Linked DNA regions of Homo sapiens: all the other regions are linked to region 2. The links come from fine-mapping of genetic effects on gene expression. A gene starts in region 2. Each other region holds a variant in brackets. All regions are shown on one strand. Distances are between the middles of the regions. Region 1 has its middle 19 kb from the start of CRIP3. Region 2 holds the start of PRPH2 (peripherin 2). Region 3 overlaps UBR2 (ubiquitin protein ligase E3 component n-recognin 2).

Region 1 (5,345 bases), 610 kb before region 2:
GAGGCAGAGGTTGCAGTGAGCCAAGACCATGCCACTGCACTCTAGCCTGGGCAACAGAGCAAGACTCCGTCTTGAAAAAAATAAAATAAAATCCAAGTAAGGGCTGGGCATGGTAGCTCACACCTATAATCCCAGCACTTTGAGAGGCCGAGGTCAGCAGATCAGTTGAGCCCAGGAGTTCAAGACCAGCCAGGCAACATAGTGAGACCCTGTCTCTACAAAAAATAAATTAGTCCGGCATGGTGGTCCATGCCTGTAGTCCCAGCTACTCGGGAGGCTGAGGTGGGAGGATCGCTTTGAACCCTGGAGGTTGAAACTGCACTGAACTCTGATTGCACTATTGCACTCCAGCCTGAGCAACAGAACAAGACCCTGTCTCAAAAATAAATTTAAAAAAAACTAAAAATGGGCCAGGCGCGGTGGCTCATGCCTGTAATCCCAGCACTTTGGGAGGCTAAGGTGGGTGGATCACCTGAGGTCAGGAGTTCGAGACCAGCCTGGCCAACATGGTGAAACCCTGTCTCTACTAAAAATACAAAAATTAGCTGGGCATGGTGGCATATGCCTGTAATCCCAGCTACTTGGGAGGCTGAGGCAGGTGAATTGCTTGAACCCGGGAGGCAGAGGTTGCAGTGAGCCTTGATTGGGCTACTGCGCCTCAGCCTGGAGGACAGAGACACCAACTCAAAAAAAAAAAAAGGGCTGGGTGTGGTGGCTCATGCCTGTAATCTCAGTACTTTGCGGGGCCAAGGCTGGCAGATCACTTGAGGTCAGGAGTTCGAGACCAGCCTGGCCAACATGGTGAAACCCCATCTCTACTAAAAATACAAAAAATTAGCCAGGGGTGTTGGCAGTCATCTATAATCCCAGCTACTTGGGAGGCTGGGAGGCTGAGGCAGGAGAATCGCTTGAACCTGGGAGGCAGAGGTCACAGTGAGCCAAGATTGCGCCATTCCACTCCAGCCTGGGTGACAAGAGCGAAACTCTGTCTCAAAAAAAAAAAAAAAAGAAAGAAAGAAAAAGAAAAAAGGAAAAAATGCTAGTGGGTACCTTTTTTTTTGGAGGGGGGACAGAGTCTTACTCTTTCGGCCAGGCTGGAGTGGAATGGCGCGATCTCAGCTCACTATAACCTCCACCTTCCGGGTACAAACAATTCTCGTGCCTCAGCCTCCCGAGTAGCTGGAATTACAGGCGTGTGCCACCATGCCTGGCTAATTTTTTTATTTTTAGTAGAGATGGGGTTTCACCATGTTAGCCAGGCTGGTCTCAAACTCCTGACTTCAAGTGATCCACCCGCCTTAGCCTCACTAGGTGCTGAGGTTACAGGCGTGAGCCACTGCGCCTGGCCAAAAAATGCTAATAGGTACTTTTATTCCTCTTTGTACTTTGGGGCTATGGGCTCAGAAACACAGTGGGAATGAGAACCAGAACCTAGTAAAATTTAGCTGACCTTTAAATCCTGTAAACTCTGAGATTTATTTAAATCTAAGCTGTGTCAATTCCAGATTTATCCTGAAAACTATTAGGCTGGTTTTGTTTTTTTGTTTTGTTTTGCTTTTGGGTTTTTTTTTGAGACAGAGTTTCACTCTGTTGCCCAGGCTGGAGTGCAGTGGCGCGATCTCAGCTCACTGCAACCTCTGCCTCCTGGGTTCAAACGATTCTCCTGCCTCAGCCTCCCAAGTAGCTGGGATTACAGGCGTGTGCCACCATGCCTGGCTAATTTTTGTATTTTTAGTAGAGACAGGGTTTCACCACGCTGGCCAAGCTGGTCATGAACTCCTGACCTCAAGCGATCCGCCCCCCTCGGCCTCCCAAAGTGCTTGGATTACAGGCGTGAGCACCACGCCAGGCTGGTTTTGTTTTTGATTTGTAAGTCCAGGCATTTTTAGAGTCCTGGAGGTCTAGTTTACTGCCCAAATACATCTATGGTTTTAGTAACTTTCGGGAATATTCATGATATTAAGCAAAGCCATCAGTGGAATAAGAAGTCAATCAAGGGCAAAAAGTACCTCAGGGCCTCATGCTGCTGATATATTAGTTAAGGATTACTTATTCCTGAGGCATGACCTGGTGGATGAAGCAATGGAAAGCAACCTGGTGCCAGGGCTGCCAACA[C/T]GTTGGTCACCACCACTTTCTCTCCTTTGTTCCAGCCCAAGATCTGTTTCTTATCAACTGTCACATTCCTCTGTTCAGGGACAGTCAAAGATGTTGGTCACAAGCTTTCATACAAACTATGACTCACAGCCCTACCTCCATCACCTGCTTTGCTGCTTAGACCTCAGTTCTCCAATGGTGTCTGAGCTGTACTGATCTGGGGGATAGGTGAGGGAAAGGGAACATTTTTTAGAATACTGTTTTTCCTTTCGGACTTCTTTTTTCTGTTATTATTATTCAAAAAGCTTCATTTTTATTTAGCTTTCTGACTCTTCAATACTTTTACAACAATTTTCTGCTCTTCAATAAGGAAAGCACGCTTGATCTTGTCATGAACACATTTAACACACATGGAACCACCATAGGCCCTGCTGACATGTTTTTTTTGTTTTCCACAATCTCATAAGAACTTTAGGTCTCACAGTACAAACCCCTTGAAGTCTGCCTGGGCACACACCACATGCAGAATTTGGTGCTTTCCCAACCTTCTTGGTATAAAGGTAAACAATTATATTACCAGGGGTTTGGGACAGCCTGGTTTTGTTAGAGGCTATATTGTAGGAAAGCCTATGATGGTATGTCAAATGCTGGACCATTCTGAGTGCCCCTACACAAGCTCAAAGGACTGCTCCTGAGAGCTCTAGGCTTCCTCAACTTTTCGATGGTGGCCGATTGTAAAGGAAATATAGACAGGGGAAAGAGAACGTCTGCCATACCTCTAGACCCCTTTGGACTTCTTTTATTTTATATGAATTCACATGTATTATGAATGATGAAATATGTAAGATCTTTTTTATTGAATTACAGTTAATATGTTGAATTTCACAAAACATAAAATTCACCTTTATTTTTTTGAGACAGGGTTTCACTCTGTCGTCCAGGCTGGAGTAGTACAGTCCTGCAATCATGGCACACAGCAACCTCCACTTCCTGGGCTCAAGTGATCCTTCCACCTTAGCCTCCCAAAGTGATATGATTAGAGGCGTGAGCCACTGTGCCTGGCCAAATTCACCATTTTTAAGTGTATAGTCCTGTGATTTTTCGTATCTTCAGTGTTGTACAACTATCACCACTATCTAATTCCAGAACATTTCCATCATCCTCTAAAAAAAAACATATACCCATTAGCAGATACTCCCAGTCACCCCTACTCCCAAGCCACTGGCAATCACCAGTCTCCTTTCTGTCTCTATGGATTTGCCTATTTTGAGCATTTAATATAAATGGAATCATACAATAAATTTCTTTTGTGTCTGGCTTCTTTCACTTAGCATAATGTTGTCAAAGTTCATCCATGTTATACCATGTATCATTGTATTTTATGGCTAGTTATTCCACTGTATGGATATACCATGTTTTGTCTACTAATTGTTGGACATTTGGGCTATTTTCATATTTTGCCTATTATGAATAATCTGTGAACATTCATGTACAAGTTTTTGTGTAAATATACGTTTTTAGTTCCCTAGGGTGCACAACTAGGAATATATAGTCATATGGTAACCGTTTAACTTTTTTCTTTTTTTTTTTTTTTTGAGATGGAGTCTAGCTGTTGTTGCCCAGGCTGGAGTGCAATGGCACGATCTCAGCTCACTGCAACTTCTGCTTCCTGGGTTCCAGCAATTCTCCTGCCTCAGCCTCCCGAGTAGCTGAGATTTCAGGCGCCCGCCACCATGCCCAGCTAATTTTCGTATTTTTAGTAGTGATGGGGTTTCACCATGTTGGCCAGGCTGGTGTCGAACTCCTGACATCAGGTGATCCATGCGCCTCGGCCTCCCAAAGTGCTGGGATTACAGGGTGAGCTACCATGCCCGGCCCCATTTAACTTTTTTCTTTTTTTTTTCTTTGAGACGGAGTCTCGCTCTGTCCCTCTGTTGCCCAGGCTGGAGTGCAGTGGCGCAATCTCGGCTCACTGCAAGCTCCACCTCCCAGGTTCAGGCCATTCTCCTGCCTCAGCCTCCTGAGTAGCTGGGACCACAGGCGCCCGCCAGCACTCATGGCTAATTTTTTGTATTTTTAGTAGAGATGGGGTTTCACCGTGTTAGCCAGGATGGTCTTGATTTCCTGACCTTGTGATCTGCCCACCTCAGCCTCCCAAAGTGCTGGGATTACAGGCGTGAGCCACCGCACCCGGCCTTAACTTTTTTCTAAGTAAACTTTTATATTAAAGTACAATGTTCATATTTTAAAAACAGGCTGGGCACAGTGGCTCATGCCTGTAATCCTAGCACTTTAGGAGGCCAACATGGATGAATCTCCTATCCATGTTGGATAGGATCAACATGCGGGAGGATCACTTGTGTCCAGGAGTTCAAGACCAGCCTGGGTGAAATAACAAGACCCTGTCTCTACAAAAAATAGAAAAATTAGCTGGGCATGGGAGCGGGTGCTTTTAGTCCCAGCTGCTCAGGAGGCTGAGGTGGGAGGATCGCTTGAGGCCACGAGGTAGAGGCTACAGTGAGCCATGATTGCACCACTGCACTCTGGCCTGGATGATAGTAAAACCCTATCTCAAAAACAAAAAACAAAACACATTACAAGTGTTAAGCTTAACAATTTCACAAAGTGAACAGACCTAGGTAACCAACACCCAAATCAAAAAATAAAATATGACCAACACCCTGGAAGCTCCTCTCATGTTATCTTCCAGTTACCACTTCCCCAAAATGTAACCAGTAATCTGACTGTTATAACAATCTCTGGTACTTTTTAAAAAAAAATCGAGGTGAAATTTACATTATAAAATATGTGAAATTTTCATCACCCAAAATAAAACACTATTTCCCTTAAGCAGTTAGTCCCCATTCCCACCTACCTGCAGCCCCTGGCAATCACCAATCTGTTTTCTTTCTATATTGATTTATCTATTCTGGACATTTCATATAAATAAAATCATACAATGTGTGACCTTTCATCTGTATTTTTGTGTTACTATTTTTTCACTTAGCATAATGTTTTTGAGATTCATCCATGTTGTAGTATGTATCAGTGTTTTATTCCTTTTCATAGCTGAATAATACTCCATTATATGTATATATCACAATCTGTTTATCCATTCATTTGCTGATGGACATTTGAGTTGTTTCCACCTTTGGCTATTTCGAATAATGCTGCTATGAACATTTCCTGCATAAGTATTTGAGTACCTGTTTTTTTATTCTTTCAGGTATTTACTAGAAGTAAAATTGCTG
Region 2 (5,345 bases):
ATAAAAGCAGGCAAAAGTGCTGAACAGACACTTCACCAAAGAAGATATGCAGATGGCAAATAAGCACATGACACATGAAAAGATCAAATGTCATTAGGGCACTGCAAATTCAAACAAGATGCAGCTACACACCTATTACAGTGGTTAAAATCTGAAACACTGACAATATCAAATGTTGGCAAGGACATGAAGTAAAAATTGCTGGTAGGAATGCAAAATTGTACAGTCACTTTGCAAGACAGATTGGCAGTTTCTTACAAAGTTAAACATAGTCTTACTATGTAATCTAGCCATTGTGCTCCTAGATATTTACCCAGATGAATGGAAAATTTTTCAGCAAAAACCTGCACGTGGATGTTTATAGCAGTTTTATTCATAATTGTCAAAAACTGGAATCAACCAGGATATTCTCTGATAGGTGAAGGAATAAACCGTGGTACATCCATGTGATGAAACGTTATTCAGTGATAAGAAGAAATGAGCTATTAAGCCGTGAAAAGATACAGAGAATCATTAATCACATATATTGCTAAGGGAAAGAAGCCAGTCTGAAAAGGCTACATGTTGTATGATTCCAACTGTAAGATATTCTAGATAAGGCAAAACTATAGATCTAGACGGTGGTTGCCCAGGGCTGAGGAGTGAGGGAAGGAGGAATGAATAGGCAGAACATGGCAGGTTATTAGAGTAGTGGAAGTATTCTGTATGATACAATAATGATGAATACATGACATTATGCATTTGGCAAAAGTGACAGAATTATATGCACAAAGACTGAACCTTAATGTAAACTATAGACTTTAGTTAATAATAGTGCATCAATATTGGTTCATTAATTGTAACAAATGTACCACATTAATGCAAGATATTAATTAGAGGAGAAACTGGTTGGGGAGATGGAGAATAATGGGAACTCCCTGTATTTTCTGTTCAATTTTTTTGTAAACCTAAAACTACTGTAAGAAATAATCCATTAATTAATAATAATAATAAATGTACAGATTCACCAAGAGTGTACACTTCTACTTCCACTCTCTTTGTTGATGTATGGTGACAGAATTTTGACATACATTCAATTTGATGGATCGAGTTTGGTCTTTTTCTTTTTTTGAGACGTCATTTCACTCTTGTCACCCAGGCTGGAGTGCAATGGCGCAATCTTGGCTCACTGCAACCTCCACTTCCCGGGTTCAATTGATGCTCCTTCCTCAGCCTCACAAGTAACTGGGATTACAGGTGCCTGTCACCATACCCAGACAATTTTTGTATTTTTAGTAGAGACAGGGTTTCACCATGTTGGCCAGGCTGGTCTTGAATGCCTGACCTCAAGTGATCCACCCACCTTGGCCTTCCAAACTGCTGGGATTACAGGTGTGAACCACTGTGCCCGGCCAAGTTTGGTATTTTATTGTTGTTTGGATTTGCATTTTCCTGCTTATTACCCAAGTTGAGATCTTTTCCAGATTATTGGACTTTTCAAGTTTCCTAATTATGAATTGTCTGTTCCTGGTTTTTGCCTATTTTTCCAGTTGATTATTGGTCTTTTGATTGTGAATTTTTGTTTATTGTGAATTTGTGAGACTTAAAACATTTTTGCATATTAATTCTTTTTTTTTTTTTTCCAGACAGAGTCTCACTGTCACCCAGGCTGGAGTGCAATGTGGGGATCTCAGTTCAGTGCAACCTCCACCTCCTGGGCTCAAGCGATCCACCTGCCTTGGCCTCCCAAAGTACTGGGATTACAGGCATAAGCCACCATGCCTGGCCACTGTATATTACTTTTTAATTTTACAAGTTGCAAATGTTTTCTCACGATCTGTCACTTTCTTTCTTTCCTTCCTTCTTCTCTTCTTTTCTTTGTCTTTTTAAAATTTGAGACAGGGCCTCACTCTGTCACCCAGGCTGGAGTGCAGTGGCACGATCATGGCTCAGTGCAGCCTTGAACTCCCCAGGCTCAGGTGATCTTGCCACCTCAGCCTCCAGAGTAGCTGGGAGAACTACAGGTGCATGCCACCATACCCAGCTAATTTTTTTTTTTTTTTTTTTGTGTGTGTGTGTGTGTGTGTGGAGATGGGGTCTTCCTATGTAGCCCAGGCTGGTCTTGAACTCCTGGGCTCAAGTGATCCACCCAACTTGGTCTCCCAAAGTGCTGGGATTATAGGCGTGATCCACTGTGCCTGGCCCTGTCATTTCTTTTCTCAGAGAGGATAACAATTTATTTGTCCTACAGAAAGTTTTAAATGTTGAAGGAGATTGGCCTGGAAATATGCTTTTGGGGAGCAACACGGTCTGAGCCAGACATCCAGATACAGCCCATTCTTCTGGCCAGTCTTGCCCTTTGCTCCTGATTCTCCAAGCTGTACCCAGAGCTTTCTGGTTCAGCATGTACCTGGAGGCTGCTTTTGACCATGTTTTGAGAGTGGCATGGCTTTATCTAATGGGATGAACCTGGCTAAAGAGATTAGCAAAATGTCTTGTGGATCCCACTTTTAATCTGCAGCGTTCAGGCTGCCCCTTCTTGGCTGGGAAGGGCGCTGAAGAAACAACGCCCAGGACCAGGACTATCCCCTGCTCAAGCTGTGATTCCGAGACCCCTGCCACCACTACTGCATTCACGGGGATCCCAGGCTAGTGGGACTCGACATGGGTAGCCCCCAGGGCAGCTCCCTACAGCTTGGGCCATCTGCACTTTTCCCAAGGCCCTAAGTCTCCGCCTCTGGGCTCGTTAAGGTTTGGGGTGGGAGCTGTGCTGTGGGAAGCAACCCGGACTACACTTGGCAAGCATGGCGCTACTGAAAGTCAAGTTTGACCAGAAGAAGCGGGTCAAGTTGGCCCAAGGGCTCTGGCTCATGAACTGGTTCTCCGTGTTGGCTGGCATCATCATCTTCAGCCTAGGACTGTTCCTGAAGATTGAACTCCGAAAGAGGAGCGATGTGATGAATAATTCTGAGAGCCATTTTGTGCCCAACTCATTGATAGGGATGGGGGTGCTATCCTGTGTCTTCAACTCGCTGGCTGGGAAGATCTGCTACGACGCCCTGGACCCAGCCAAGTATGCCAGATGGAAGCCCTGGCTGAAGCCGTACCTGGCTATCTGTGTTCTCTTCAACATCATCCTCTTCCTTGTGGCTCTCTGCTGCTTTCTGCTTCGGGGCTCGCTGGAGAACACCCTGGGCCAAGGGCTCAAGAACGGCATGAAGTACTACCGGGACACAGACACCCCTGGCAGGTGTTTCATGAAGAAGACCATCGACATGCTGCAGATCGAGTTCAAATGCTGCGGCAACAACGGTTTTCGGGACTGGTTTGAGATTCAGTGGATCAGCAATCGCTACCTGGACTTTTCCTCCAAAGAAGTCAAAGAGTGAGTGGCTTCCAGTCCTGGGGTCAGAGCTATGAATATATTGGGGACACTGAGGCTCAGGCCTCTGACCAGCCCCTCTCCCCGCACCCAGTGCCTTTTCCTCTCCATCGGGTGCACAACTTATTGCTGCGTATGTGAGGGTGTATCAGGTGGAACCATATGAAATTGCTAATATTCTACCTCTTTGACCCATAAAAAATGACAACTTCATAGGGTTCAACCTAACATTGGCTAAGGTGGTAGGAAGGTATCAATTTATATAAGCTGTTTGGATAGGAGCCCCTTGGGATGAAGAGCCAGGCAGCAATGTGTGTCCACTTTATACAGAGGGATGGAAGTCATTCATAGATCACAAACACTGAGGTACTATTTGGCTATTTGTCCCATTCATTCAAAGTAGATGGATTCAGTCCCAGAAGTTTAAATTTCCTAGTTAGTTCCCTTGTTTTCCAACCTTTCAACCCTGAGCATCCATTCCCAAGATGTTTGTCTGGATATGTTGGAAAGAGCATAGGAAGGGGAAGTCATGAGATCTAGGGTGAAGTTTTGGTTCTGTTGTTCAAGGTCTTGTGACCTTGGGCAGGTCACTAGTCACTCTGCGCTTTGGCTTGCCCATCTTTTAAATGAGCACTGGAATAGAATAGGTAATTTTGGAAGTCACCTCCTAGCCCTGCCTGGTAGCTGGCATGCAGCAGGTACTCATTAAATGCTTGCTGGTGTTTACTTAGCGAGTCATGATAGTGCAATGTGATAAAGCATTTCTAAAGTATTCTTGGCATATGTAAAAGTAAAATGCTGCGATGGGCTGTGGGAGGTGCTGGTGAGAGAGAGACTCTCGACCACTGTGTCGGAGGGAACAGCCTGTGCACTGGCTCCAGCGGGCTGCTCTTCCCAACACACCCACCAACCTGGGGCTCGAGTGACTTTTCAGGGAAAGGGCAGCCTGCCTTGAGGCAGCCGCTTTCCCTCACCTCTTCTTTCTGTCTGACTCGACCCTACCTGGCTGAGGTTAGGGGTTCAGTTATTCCTAAGGGTGGTTTTTTTTTCTTCCCAGTGAGGCTGGCAAGTCCAAAGGGAACTTGAACTCAGGGCATTGGCACCAGCAGCAGGACATGTTTGAAGCCCAAAACAACATTAATGACGCCCAAATAGCTAGCTTATATCTGCCCTGCAGATGGAAGGGACGTCCAAGTGAAGGTCACTTCTTGGGATTTTATTTTCTTGTGGATGGAGATTACTGCTGCAAATCCCCAGTCAGGAGAGGATTGTAAAGGGCTGTGCCCTTCCCAGGTGACAGGTCTGCAGGGGCAGCACAAGATGCCACGATTTACATAAATCTCCCGAGGAGGGCATGAAGCCAGGGGGACAAGCAGAATTCTGGGGAGTGGGAGAGGCCGATGGTAGAACCAGCCTCTGTGAGCAGAGGCTCACAGAGAAGGGGCTTTTCATCTTTTCCTCTATCATTTCCCTTGATTGTCTCCTGCATAGAGTCAGTTCTTGGACAGATGTATTCAAATCTCTCGGTAACTCCAAATCCCCTTTTGTATCAGAGTGAAGGAATTATCTAGGTCACTCCACTCTCAATGGTCAATGGATCCAAAATTTCAGGCAAATATTTAGCTGAATCAAAACTCCTTCAATGTCCCATACCAACTTGTTGGTGGGAAATTTTCCTAACTCCACTGACTTGGAAAAATTCTTCTATTACACGCACAAAAAATACAGCAGTAATATTAAAAGAAGCCAAAATAGGAAAACAAATTCAAGCTAGCTTCTCACCCATAACTTGATTAATGCCTTTAGTTTTTCTACATTTCAGTTTCAGTCTAGTCTTGTTAACATTTACATAATCATACAGTGTAATGATAGTATAAAGACAATTTAGGGCCGGGTGCGGTAGCTCACACCTGTAATCCCAGCACTTTGGGAGGCCGAGGCGGGCGGATCACCTGAGTTCAGGAGTTCGAGACCAGCCTGACCA
Region 3 (5,000 bases), 47 kb after region 2:
CTTAGATTGCTTTCAATTATTTGCTAATATAAATAATATCAGAGTGTACATCTTTTTCTTTTTGAGACAGGGTCTCACTCTTTTGTCCAGTCTGGAGTGCAGTGGTGTGATGGCTCACTGCAGCCTTCACCTGCCTGGGTGATCTGACTACCTCAACCTCCTGAGAAGATAGAACCACAGGCACATGCTACCATGCCTGGCTAATTTTTGTATTTTTTGGTAGAGACAGGGTTTCACCATGTTGGCCAGGCTGGTCTCAAATGCCTGGGCTCAAGCAATCTGCCAGCCTCATTCTCCCAAAGTGCTGGGATTATAGGGGTGAGACACCGTGCCTGGCTGGAGTGTCCATCTTTATATGCCTATATGTTTTTTTTCTATATGTTGAATTATTTTGTTAATGTAGGTTCTCAGAAATGGGATAGTCAAAAAACAGACATTTTTATAGGTTCCTGACTACAGATTCTTGACATATATACTGTTGAAAGCTAAGCAAACTACTGAATTGCTATTTGTAGCAAATCATGACTCTAACCATACATGGAATTCTAATAATTTCATTTTATTCCTGCTACTACTGAATATTACCTTAAAAATAAATTATGCCAATTTAACTTGCAGTTTTAAATTCCCATTCTGAATGAGACAACATAAGTTTTAGAGTATCAACTTTCCAAAGTACATTTGATCTATCCTCTAGTCTCTGCCAGATCCCTGAGCAAATGAAGGGTTCCACAGCCAAATAAATGTGGGAAGCTCTGCATATTATCACCTTTCTCCCAGATTTCCAATTATGTTAGTATATGAATAGTTCAGAAAGGCTCTGCAGATCACTCCACGTCTTATTTTAAAAACATGTCAACAGACAACAAATTCCCCTAATTAACAAACGAATTCCTTTCTCATGCTATCATCATCTAGCAATATTTAGGGAAATGCGTTATGTAAAGATAACTAACTCACCTTCCCGTATACTGGTGAAGTGTTTTATACAAAGCAAGAACTGCTGATTCTTCTTCACAAGGGGGATTTTCTTGATCCATGCCATTCTCTTCTGAAAGATAAGGAAATACTAGTACTCTGTATTTTCCAATTAAGTGTTATCAAAAGGACTGAAGACATTAAGCATGCAAATATATTCATAAACTCACATATAACATGAAGTATTCCTAGAAAACATGCAAAATTGTAATCCCTCAAGTGGGAGCACAGTATTGATCTCAATCAAACCAAACAGCCAGCTGGCATGTTTTAAGTAAAATCAAATAAATATAGTCTTAAAGTGTATGAAAAACAAGAATTTTGAATGCAAAACGTAATTTAATGATGAATTCATGTGGGCATTAACAAACATGTAAGTTAAAACAAAATTGGCATTCTAAAACATAAGATTCTAAAAGATTTAATTACTATTCTACACAAATATTACTGAATGTATGAAATTAAAACTAGAAACATTCACATTACTAGGAAATTTTAAGAGGAGAAAGAAATGTTTCAAAACTTTTCATATGAAGATACACAGAAAAAAACAGCCTTATTCATGTGTTATTCTCATCCAAATACCTTTTCCTCTAATACTTTTTTTAAAACTCAGAAAACTCAAGTATTTCCTTCAAGAAACTGACAAAAAGGCAAGAGTTACCTGTACATGAGGTAAGTAAGATCTGTATGATGTGTGCCATAGTAACCAGATGGAAAATGTGAAGGTCTCCAGTGCCAAGGCTGATCCCTGAAAAATCCTGACACTGCAACGCAGGAAATGCAAGCACCAAGCCCACCTAGGCACCAAACACAGGACATCAGACAGATCGCCTTTCCTTTCACAGCTAAGCAAATTTCCATCTTCTTACTTTTACTTTTATTTTGATTTTTTTTTTGAGACAGAGTCTTACTCTGTTGCCCAGGCTGGAGTGCAATGGCGCAACCTCGGTTCACTGCAACATCCACCTCCTGGGTTCAAGCGATTCTCCTGCCTCAGCCTCCTGAGTAGCTGGGATTACAGGCGTGCAACATCATGCCCGACTTTTTGTATTTTTAGTAGAGATGAGGTTTTGCCACGTTGGCCAGGCTGGTCTCGAACTCCTGACCTCAGGTAATCCGCCCACCTCGGCCTCCCAAAGTGCTGGGATTACAGGCGTGAGCCACCGCGCCTGGTCACATTTCCATTTTCTTACTGTGATCCCTCCTGAGTTCAGCTCCTCCCTTTAAGAAATCTTTGTTCTTAAAGAAAGGGCATCCATGTTGGAAAATCCAATAGGACTGGCTACATGAAATGACTTGAGTTACAGGACTCTTGATGGGCACTATGATTTCATTAATCCAGTGGGTCCTCTATACATAGCTTATTGTTAACAAAAACAGTATCTGAACTCTCTCCAGGACTGTAGGCAGTTGAAAAAACATGGGTTTTGGACCCATAAATATCTAGATATGAATCCTACCTCCTCCTCTTATGAGCTGTTTTACACAAATTAATATCTCTGATCAGGCCTCAGTTTCCCTATTGGTAAACTAAAGACAATATGTTACATGTAAATTGTAGAGATGTAAGTGTGAA[C/T]GTATGTAAAAGCTGGCAGGTACACAAATGCTAGCTCTGTTGGCCTCCTGCTGTCTGCATGGCAGTATAAGTGGTGGTGGTTTTAGTTGCAGCAATGAGAACAGTAATAGCCGCATTTATTAGGAATATATTGCTCTAAGTGTGTTACATGGATTAACTCACTGAGTTCTGACATAGTCATATAAAGTAGGTACTAACCAACTTAAAGGGGCAGAATCTGAGGTCCAGAGAATAAAGGCACAGCACTCGGGGCTGCTGGGTGTGGCAGTACACTCTGTACCCTGTGCAAGGGAACCCAGTTGAGGTAGGGCTGAAATTTGGCTACCCACTATTTGGACAGCTGTGTGTCTTAGCACTAGGATGTCCTGGCTCAGAGGACATACCTTTCCCTGAATTATAAGGGGCTCTCTGCTGCTAAGTAGTGTGACCACAGGGCTGTATCTGCCAGATTTTCGAAAATGTACAAAAGCACTGTATGGGCCAGCAGCAGTGCTTCTGTTGCTGTTTTTTTTTTTTTGGATGGGGTCTTGCTCTGTCATCCAGGCTGGAGTGCAGTCATGCAATCTTGGTCACTGCAACCTCCGCCTCCTGGGTTCAAGTGATTCTCCTGTCTCACTTTCCTGAGTAGCTGAGATTACAGGCATGTGCCACCACGCCCAGCTAATTTTTTGTATTTTTAGTAGAGATAGGGTTTCACCATGTTGGCAAGGCTGCTCTCAAACTCCTGACCTCAAGTGATCTGGGGTGAGCCTCGCAAAGTGCTGGGATTACAGGCATGAGTCACCACACCTGACCCGTTGCTGGTGTTTTTATCTCTTTACAGGTTAAAAGCACAGAGAGGTTAAAATACTAACCTCAGCCATAAAGCAAAATAAGAGTCAGAGGACGTCTCGATAACCAGGTCAAGTCTCTCAACTAGGTTCCTAAATATTTTCTTTTTGAGGTTTCTCATAAAAGAATTATACTCAGAAGGGGTAAGGAAATCACATAACTCCTTCCTGTCTGCCACTACACTGCTCACCAAACCTAAGGTAAAGTTACATAGTATGACGTAGAAGTCCAAACAAACTGCACAATACCCACCAATAAATGAAACATGTCAATATCTAATATGCATGGAAGTTCCTCATGGCTGTCATTAGGCACCAGTGCTACAGATTTAAAGAGAAATACATTAGCATATTTCATATGCCAACATGTTAAAATGCATATAATCTGCTTTAAATTTATCTTCTTGCAAGACACATGAGAATTTATAAGCTAGAGCTTATATATAAGAAAACCAGTACTACTAAATATTTAATTCATTACTGAGAGAAGCTGTACCATTAAAAACAAAATTTCAGAGGATGAAAAATTACAACATGTTATAAATGTATTAATACTCACATGCAAAAAGTTTACAAAAATGTCCTTGCACCACTGAAACTGATGCCACTGTCCAGTGTGCTGCGGCAAATCTCGTCAATGACCTAAGACAGTCATCCTAAAATAAACCAACGCAATTAACAAAAAACAAAAATGCAAAGCAGTTCTCTTTCAGGAATGCTAGTTCAGAGCACAGCTGGATGCACAATGAAACTGCTCTAGATGGTATGGAACTAGATCTATGACATCTCAATGACATGCCTCTAACACAGGATAAATGGAATGGGAAATGTCTAAGTGTGTGCTGAATAAATGAAATCTATCTCTTTGCCACCATGTTGCTGGTTTTCTCTGGAAAAGAAAAGAATATAGAATATACGCATCTGACAGAAAGCAAGGGACACTCCCAAGATGCCAGTGCAGGCCGGGTGTGGTGGCTCACACCTGTAATCCCAGCTACTCGAGAGGCTGAGGAAGGAGAATCACTTGAACCCTGGAGGCAGAGGTTGCAGTGAGCTGAGATCACACCACTGCACTCCAGCCTGGAAAACAGAGCGAGACTCTATCTCAAAAAACAAATAAACAAGCCAAGATGCGGATGCAGTATTTCTCTATGTTTATCCTAAACAGATACCCTAAAACACATATCTCTTATGTTTATCCTAAAGAGATCCTCTAAAATGTGGATACTCTTCCGTAAAATGTAGAGTATCCTAAAGAGATACTCCAAATATTGGGGAAACTGTCTAAGAAGATGGTGGTACAAATGAGGGTGCCTGCAGCTATTAAAAATTGTTATGAGGACTAAGTAGCAGTAATAAGAAAACTCTTGATTTAAAGAATACAGCAGAAACAAAGCTACATGTGAGTACCAATTGTAATCAAGCATAAATATGCTAATGGAAAAAGATGGGTATGTGATAAGTTGATGACTTTTTTCTTCCTGCTTGTTTTTTCATTTTCCAAATTTTCTGTAATGTTTGGTTCAATAAATATTGAGGTCCTACTATATACACTAGGTCTTGGTTCTGAAGATCTTCAAATAAAACCCATTCTCCCCCTCCTGCTCTCAAAG

What was found.
Region 1: its variant is fine-mapped to the expression of PRPH2 in prostate (GTEx, PIP above 0.99).
Region 3: its variant is fine-mapped to the expression of PRPH2 in thyroid (GTEx, PIP above 0.99).

The regions. Positions count from the first base shown.
Region 1 is chr6:43,325,539-43,330,883 of GRCh38, reverse strand. It overlaps the pseudogene RPL34P14. Among named protein-coding and RNA genes, the nearest start is that of CRIP3, 19 kb to the right of the region's middle. RefSeq lists a silencer at 2,079-2,373. The variant C/T (reference allele first, on the strand shown) is at 2,116.
Region 2 is chr6:42,719,773-42,725,117 of GRCh38, reverse strand. PRPH2 (peripherin 2) reads left to right here and starts at 2,521. Exons shown (of 3, transcript NM_000322.5): 1 at 2,521-3,364. The coding sequence starts at 2,784.
Region 3 is chr6:42,672,834-42,677,833 of GRCh38, reverse strand. UBR2 (ubiquitin protein ligase E3 component n-recognin 2) reads right to left here. Exons shown (of 47, transcript NM_001363705.2): 37 at 3,947-4,043; 38 at 3,641-3,708; 39 at 1,643-1,778; 40 at 961-1,051. Among named protein-coding and RNA genes, the nearest start is that of PRPH2, 47 kb to the left of the region's middle. The variant C/T (reference allele first, on the strand shown) is at 2,558.